Homo sapiens: one gene and its partner. The protein of the gene in region 1 purifies or fractionates together with the protein of each later gene. This does not show direct contact. Each region holds a gene or a part of one and is shown on either strand. Other genes may lie near its edges. The genes, in order: DCUN1D5 and TLN2.

Region 1 (3,812 bases):
TTTGAACTTAGTTTTTCTCTAAGAGTTGAGATGTGATAAAAATCTTAGGCGTCTGTGTGTTTTCTAAGCTATTGCAGATCCCAACCCCCTGCTAGACTAATAAGTGGAGAGGAACATTTTTCAAGCAAGAAGTGCCTGGCTTGGTTTTATGAATATGCAGGTAATGAAATTAATATAAGAAGATACTAGTCATATGCTTTAAAAAGTTTATTTGCCTTATTCATTTAACAAATTATCTGTTACAGGCCTGCTATGTGTTAGTGCTGTGTACTGGGATGAGGGTCAGGACTGAAGATTGTGGGTAGACTAAAAATTTGTTGCCAATTTAGGCTGATATTTCTTTAAATATATATTCGGTATATATTTACTGGGAGGGAAGAACTCATTTACTATTAATAAAACGTGTAAACAAAGATTCATTTATTTACATCTATTGGCTAAAGTAGTATTCTGGAAAATAAAAGGTACACAATAAAACATTTTTGTATTTGATATTGTGGAAAACACAAAGTACATAATAAAACATTTCTATTCAATATTCTCTTTTTGAAATTTTTCTGAACTAACATTTTCTGAAACTTTTGGGGAGACATAGTAAAAGATTTAAACCCCTCAGTTATAATTGTACAACACATTTACTTTTTAACAATTATCATTTAGCCATCCACTTCTACTAGAGATGCAATAGTAAGAAAATAAATAGACTGATATTAATACAGTGTGATAAATACTATATTCAGAAGATACACTGTGAGAGTTCATAGGAGGGATATATAACCCAGCTTTTAAAGTGTCATGGGAGTTTTCTAGAGGAGCTAACTTAACCTCAGCTAAATCTTGTAACTGGTGGATGAAGAGCCCTAGGCCCAGGATGGGGTTGTGTTTTAGAGGCGAAAGTCAAAGCCAGCCAGAGATGGGGCTGAAGAGTTAAGCAAATATATGCAAAAGAACACTTATACTATCTCATAAATATATATGGAATTTTTTTCCCCTTAGAATAGTTTTGTTTTTTTGGAGTTATTGATTTTAAAGCTTTTTTCTTTTCCTTTTCCTTTTTTTTAACCTGCTTCACTTTTTTTTCTCCTTCTTTTAATCACTATCATTCTCAAAATGTTTGTTTAAAATGGAAGTGTATATGTAGCTATTGCCTTATATTTAGTGCTCATCCACATTAAGGTCTAAAGTAGTATACTTTGAACTTGAGGTATAAGTTTAGGCTAATTGTATGGAATGTGAGACTATTTTGAAAGGGGGGCAGTAACTTTACTGTTGGAATCAGCTGAGTGATCCCAAAGTACAATTTTAAAATTGTTTAGTAACAGAACAGATTCTTTCTAGACCAGAAATAAATGCTATTACTGGCATCCCAAGACAACCACTAACCCAATTTAAATGAAGGGAATTCATTTCTTACTGACCTCCATTTAAAATGTTGACCCATTATCCCAAATGCCAGTTTTACTGGTATGAATGATATATAATCAAAAGGTCACCCATCTTATTTCACTTATAAAGGTTACTAGATACAATAGAAATAGAAAATATTTGCCTCAACTAGGAACTTTCCTAGGTAGTGTAAGATTCTAATTAAACATTTGTTTACTATATTAGCATTTTTAATAGCCAACATAATAATTGCATTATTCCAGGAATTGTCCCAGGTATATTATTTTTTCTTGTGACTGTTCTATTAAGTAGGTAGTATTATCACCACCTCCCACTACGACTTTATTTTTTGAGACAGGGTCTCACTGTGTCGCCCACGCTGGAGCGCAGTGCTGTGATCATGGCTCACTGCAGCCTTGAGCTCCTGGGCTCAGGCCATCCTCCCACCTCAGCCTTTCTAGTAGGTGGGAATATAGGCATGTGCCACCACGCCTGGCTAATTTTTTAAATTTTTTGTAGAAATGGGGTTTCAGCCGGGTGTGGTGGCTCACGTCTGTAATCTCAGCACTTTGGGAGGCCAAGGTAGGCAGATCACGAGGTCAGGAGATCGAGACCATCCTGGTTAACATGGTGAAACACTCTCTCTACCAAAAACACAAACAATTAGCCGGGCGTGGTGGTGTGCGCCTGTAGTCCCAGCTACTTGGGAGGCTGGGGCAGGAGAATGGCGTGAACCCAGGAGGCGGAGCTCACAGTGAGCCGAGATAACACCACTGCACTCCAGCCTGGGTGACAGAGTGAGACTCTGCCTCAAAAAAAAAAAAAAAGAAAAAGAAAAAAAGAAATGGGGTTTCACGATGTTGCCCAAACTGGTCTCCAACTCCTGGGCTCAAGTGATCTAATTGCCTCAGCTTCCCAGAGTGGTGGGATTACAGGCATGAGCTGCTGTGCTTGGCCATACCCTCATTTTATAGATGAGAAAACTGAGACTTAGATTAATTAATTTGCCCAAGATCATATAGTGACAAGAGCCAGGATTCAAACCCAGGTCCTTCTGATTCTAAAGTCCATGCTTTTAACTACTATGCTTTTATGTATTTTTTATTTAAATTTTATAATGTTTATATATAGTTATAAACATTTTATTATAATAGATATTATTTTATGTTTATTTTTTATTTAAGCTAATTTTCACTTTTGCAAAGAAAATATTGGTACTCTTGGTTAATTTCTGTCATCCATTCAATAAATATTGAGCACTTGTTTTGAGTCAGGCACTGTGCTGAGTGCTGGATATATAGTGCTGAGCAAGTCAGACAAGATCCCTGCCTTTGGGGGACTTGCCTTCTGGTGAGGAAGACAGTCAGTAAACAGGTATGTAGGCAAGATAAGTACAGATTGTGGGGAGTTATAAGGATAATAAATATGGTGAGGTTCAGGAATAGAGAAGAAAGAAGGGTTAGATGGACTTTCAGATAGAGTGATTAGGGAAGGCCTCTCTGTGGAGACCACTTTGTGCAGAGACCTGATTAGGGAGGAACCATTTGTTTGCCAAATAAACAGTAACTGTTCTGTCTTGAAATGGGTATGTCCGTATTAAAATGAAGCCAATAATTTTGCCTACTGAGAATAATACATGTAAAGCCCTTAGCACAATACCTGGTATATAGTCAGAACTCAAATGTTATTATTATTAAAACAGTAATAGCATTACAGCATCAGATTTACTGGTTGTGTGTTTTTTACAGTGTTCCAAAATTAATGACTCTTACGTAGCTCATGTTGAAGGTGCTGTGTCACTGAGAATTTTTTTTTTTTCCCCCTAAGCATCTGTTATGGCTGGCATGGTATTAGGCCTTGCAGATATAGCTAGGAACATTCCTTTATGGTTATAAAGAAATCAGGAAATTGATGGTGTTTTTCTTTTAGTTTTGAAAATATCACTAAACTTGTTACTATGGTATTATGTGTGATAAGGCTGTTGGTTTTGTTCTTTCACAAGACCTCATTCTTGAGTGATATTTAAATTAATGATTCAGTAATATACTGGCCTATGGTAATTGAAAACATGGAAAGTGAAAGGGCAGTTTTAAAGTCTCATAGAGTCAAAAAATAAGGTTGGAATTGCATAGTCCTAATATAGTACCTAGCTGGTGGAGTAGAGTGAACTCATAGTATGAACAAAATCATTTCTATAGCTTCTTCAATTGAGTGGAAACCTAGTTGTCCAAAAGAGTTAATTAAATTTAGCTCCAGAGGTTTTACCCAGAGAGTAGTTTTATTAGAAAGATTGGAAGCAATGGTATTGGAAGGATTAACATTTTGCAGTCCGGGGAAAGCACATTAGTTACAGACCTCGCTTTAGACTTAGATCTGTTACTATTTACATCACTTTGGCAAAGTCAGTTAACATTTACAGACCTTAT
Region 2 (4,539 bases), on another chromosome or scaffold:
GCCTATGCCTGTACAGAATATCCCTAGTAACTCATTCAACAGGGTCAAGTTGTTAAAAGTTCGCTTTCTCTTTCGAGGTAGAAGCTCCACATCAATGCCAAAAAGAGAGACCCTCTAATACTCTTTGGAATCTCCCTGATAACTTAAATGGTTACAAAGGCAGAGAGAAACCAGTGGCTTCCCCAATATGAAGAGACCTGTTTCTGTGATTAAGGTGCTCCCTCTAAGACTGGAAACTTAAAACGGATTGAGGCTTTCTGCAACTGATTTCTCTTCTAAATTAGCTATGCTAATTTTGGAAAAATATATCTTGGGCTCTGGGTGTTTTCCACTATTCTAGTGCTCAATGAAAAAAAAAAGGCATTCGTGTAGGCATCCCTCTTCTCTCAAGACCACTTGTCACACCCACCGCCATCCTCTGATTTTGCATAGAGGTCCCAAATAAGCAATCAAGGTAGGTAAAATCTTGGCTGACATTCATATCGGAGTCACTTTTGCAGGCGCTTCATGAAATGAATCAGGGAAAGAGCTGCCTAACACCTAACATCTCCAGGCACATCTCCCACAGGAAAGCCTCTCCCCTCCCTCTGCACACCTAACCCCCAACCCCAGAGGTTTCTGTGGTCCCTTCTAGCCTCTTCAGTGAAGAAGACCGGAAGTGCCGACAAAACCTCAATACTATGACATCATTTCGGTAACACTCCAAGGAGAACACGTTCCTGCAATTGGCTGCCTGTAGGTTGGCAAACACGCCCGTGCCCTGTCCCATCACAAAGCAGAGGTCACAGTCTACTTCAAAAGTAAAGATTCCCCACTCCCGCTTCCCCCTCACTCCAGAGAGGTCGCTGCCTCCAAGCTCTGGAGAAGGGAGGTCAGCGTGCAACCTTACAATGCCACAGCTTAACACACCCAGGTATTATTAATGGAAAAGTAAGTGGTACTTACAGCACCAGGGCAATTTACGTGTATTTTGGGGACCACTTCTCCAAGACATCATCCCTACCCAACCGTCTTTAATTATGTCTTTGACAACGCCAACACTTCAGTTCATTCCTCTCTCATCTTCTGGAAAGAACCAGAAGTTTTCACTATGAGACACAGGAATTCTGGCCTAAGTTGTCCCAGCTCTTCAAGGACAGCAAGAATCCAAGTTTCCCCACGCGTCACCTGAAGCCCCAACTTCTGGAAACGCCCTCCTTTCCTCGCCTCTACGAGCTGCGAGAGCAGAACACGCAGCCGCGGGCGCTACTGCTGTCGCCGCTAAAGCCAAAGAGGCGACTGGAAGCTCAGGCTGTTCGGCGGCCTCGGGGCGACCACAGGCCAGGCCCTGGTCCTGATCCACGAACCAAGGCGCCTCCTCTCCCCCAGGAAGTGAGCTACTGCGCCCCTCGGAGCACCCAGGCGAGCCCGGGCACCGGGAGAACGCTCTACACTCGGCGCCCAGCCCCGGGACGCCGCCCAGCGCACGGCTCCGGCTGAGCACCCGGGCAGCGGTAGCTGCGGGGAAGAGGGGCGTGTTCCCTGAGCCTCGGAGCCCCAAGGCCGGGTCCAGGCGGGACAGAGGAAGGCGGCAAGCCCAGCACGCTGTCCGTGACGGCGGCTCTCGTTCCCAAGCCCCGCCGGCTGGCGTGGCGACGCGCTGTAGTCCGCGCGCCCTTGCGGGGACAGCAGTCGTGCGCGCCTTGTGCGGCCGCCTCCGCGCCTGCCTCGGCGCGCAAACTTTCCCGGCGACAACCGATCAGGCCTCTCCGACTGGGGCGCGGGGCTCTCCCCGGGACCCAGAAACTGCTCGCCCCCTCCCCTCCGCAGTCAAGACCCACTGAAAATATGGCGCCCTCGAAAGTCGTTCCTCGGTCCCCTCAGGGATCCCGAAATACTCGTCTCCAGGTCCCTCCAGCTTCCAATGGGCGCAAAATTTCAGCTCGTGGGACCGAGGAAGGAGAGGGAGCCGCTGAGTCTGTGTGAGGCCAGCCGCACTGGATGCAAAGCCTGGCCCCGCTCTCGGCCCGGCACTGCCCCCGTCGCTCAGCGGCCAGCAGTTCGCCCGTGGCGAGATTGCCAAGTAAAGGGCAGTCGTGGGATCGGCAGGTCTGAGTGTCCGGCACCGGAGAAGGAACTCCGCACTGGCGGGCTGTCTTAGCCCAGAGCCTCGGCGGGAGACTTGTTTGCAAAGTGGCGCTGGAGTCCCGGCGGCCAGTGCTGGAATGAAGCTGCTCCTCCAGCGCCAACTCTTCTGGCGCGGGGGCCCGGCTGGGGTCGAGGGGACACTCTATGCAGGCGGGGCCGCTTTTCAAAGCCCAGTTACCGGAAACCCAGCGAGAGCCCCGGAGGGGACCGGCTGCCCACGGCCAGGAATCCGCTCTCTGGCGCCGACTGCGAGGCTGTTTGCAAACCGCTGCGCCCGGGTCCGGTGCAGTGAAACATACATGTGCAATAGACAGGTGCATTAATTTCATTTTATTTTTATTTTCCTGCAAGAAGCCCTCCTAGACCATCAAATCTGGGAGCTTTACGGGTTTTTCCTGCATTGGCATCACTCACGAGAAGCAAAAGGGAGGAAAAAAAACCCCACATTTTCCTTCTGGAGAGGGGAGGGAAAAGACACGAGAAATTCATGCAACGTGCATGCAGCTGGAGGAAGAGGAAAACCCGAGTGAGCCGTGCGCCTTACCGGGGGATGCATTTACTGTCTCATTGCAGAGCGCCTGCCCGGGAGTGCAGCCCGCGTCCCCCCGCGCGCTGGGCGACCACTCCGCTCCCGCAGCCGCCTCAGCCGCTGCCGCCGCCGCTGGCTCCGGGCGCGGAACAAGAGCCGAGGGCGAGCGCGAGCGCACTGCCCGAGAGCGCTGGGAGGGCAGGAAGCGCGTCATCATTCGGGGACGGCGCGGCGCCGGTCCGGCCGCGGCGCCGCGCGGCACCGGGGTGGGCCGCCACCGAGGCTCAGGCGCCCGTCCTGGGTTTCCTCCCACGCGTGGTGATGCTGAAAGGGTCCGCGAGGGAAGGTGATGCACCGGCCGAGCTGTCACGGGGAAGGGAGGCTCGGGGTGACCCCGGCTTCCCAGAATTGGGGCTCTGCTGTGTAAAGGGGATGACTGCAGGACACAGCGTCTTGTAGGCTGGGGCCCCTAGGTCCGCAGAGTGCCCTCTCGGGACCTCTGGCCCGGTCCTGGGGGAAGCGAGCTGTGGCTAACTGGAGGGCCGTGGTGGGCGGTGGGGTCTTGCTGCGAAGCGGAGGGCCGTGACCCCAGGCGAGCCTGCTCCTTTCAGCACAAGGACCCTGAAACCTTGCTGGTCAGGTGTCACTTAGGTATTTAGAGAACGACTATAGGGATGAGTGGCGGTAGGGGCGTGCTGTGTTGATAAGAAGAAAATAATTCACTCCTGCTTGCCATGCCCTGAATAAAGTCAGTTATATACCTCTTACATTTACAGTCATTATTAGTAAATACTGTAAATACCATGGAACAATGTGAAGGTTATTCAAGGGGGTGAGGAGACAAAACACTATGTACCGTATGGTCCCGTTTTTAAAAACTGTGATTTATGGAGAAAGGCAGAAAAGACTGGATAGATAAACACCAATAAGTCTCTCAGTGATTGGTGGAATTGTGAGTAATTTTACTTTTTTATTTATCTGTAAGGGACACATTAGTAATTTAAAAAAACAAGAATTAGCCATGACCCCTTTACTCCTAGTACTTTGGGAGGCCAAAGCAGGAAGATCTCAAGCCCAAGGAGTTTAAGATCGGCCTGGGCAATATAGCGAGACCTTATCTCTACAAAAAAAATTAAAAATCAGCCGGGTGTGGGGGCGCATGCCTGTAGTCCCAGTTACTGGGGAGAATGGTGGGAGGATCGCTTGAGCCCGGGAGCTCGGGGGCTGCATGAGCGGTGATCCTACCACTGCACTCCAGCCTGGATGACAGAGCGGGACTCTGTCTCAAAAAAGAAAAAAAAAAGGAAAGACGACATTATTTCCATCCCAATACAGAATGGACCAGGAAATAGGTAGCAAATCTATTCAGTTACTCAAATGGAACTGCTGGCAACTTTTTAGTGTTTCTCAGAGAAAGAAACTGCTGTCACCATAAACCGGAGACTGAATTGATTTTGTAAATTGAAATTATTTTGAATAAGTCCGTTGGAACATTGGATAAGGCTGGACATTCTGTGAGAACAATACCCTGTCCTTAACCAGGCTGATGAACCGGACTGTATGTATCATAGCAGCAAAGATAACCTTAGGGTACAACTTTGTAACTTATTGCAGAATATAAACTGTAAAGCTAACAAAGTATACATTATCAATGCACAGTGAGAGAACCAATTACTTGGCAACTTGAGAAAGTCCTAAAAATTGCAGGGCACAATTTCTCATTGTACAGGTAAAGTATTTTTGTTCACCACGCCTTTTTAAACATTCACCAGTCTCACAGAATAACTAGTGGTGGCAACAAGCCACCTCAGGGGTTGATTAAAAAGTACATGTTTATTGATTTCTGTATGAGCCTGGTAATAAGCTCACTAAATTAATGCCAC

What was found.
Region 2: the proteins of DCUN1D5 (region 1) and TLN2 fractionate together in Homo sapiens (co-fractionation; one large-scale study listed by BioGRID). This does not show direct contact.

Annotation. Positions count from the first base shown.
Region 1 is NC_000011.10:103,085,575-103,089,386, reverse strand, and holds part of DCUN1D5 (DCN1-like protein 5), read left to right. Parts: intron 1-68; coding exon 69-160; intron 161-3,812. UniProt on the Homo sapiens protein: Contributes to the neddylation of all cullins by transferring NEDD8 from N-terminally acetylated NEDD8-conjugating E2s enzyme to different cullin C-terminal domain-RBX complexes which is necessary for the activation of cullin-RING E3 ubiquitin ligases (CRLs).
Region 2 is NC_000015.10:62,388,818-62,393,356, reverse strand, and holds the start of TLN2 (talin-2), read right to left. Parts: upstream 2,808-4,539; 5' UTR 2,672-2,807; intron 1-2,671. UniProt on the Homo sapiens protein: As a major component of focal adhesion plaques that links integrin to the actin cytoskeleton, may play an important role in cell adhesion. Recruits PIP5K1C to focal adhesion plaques and strongly activates its kinase activity.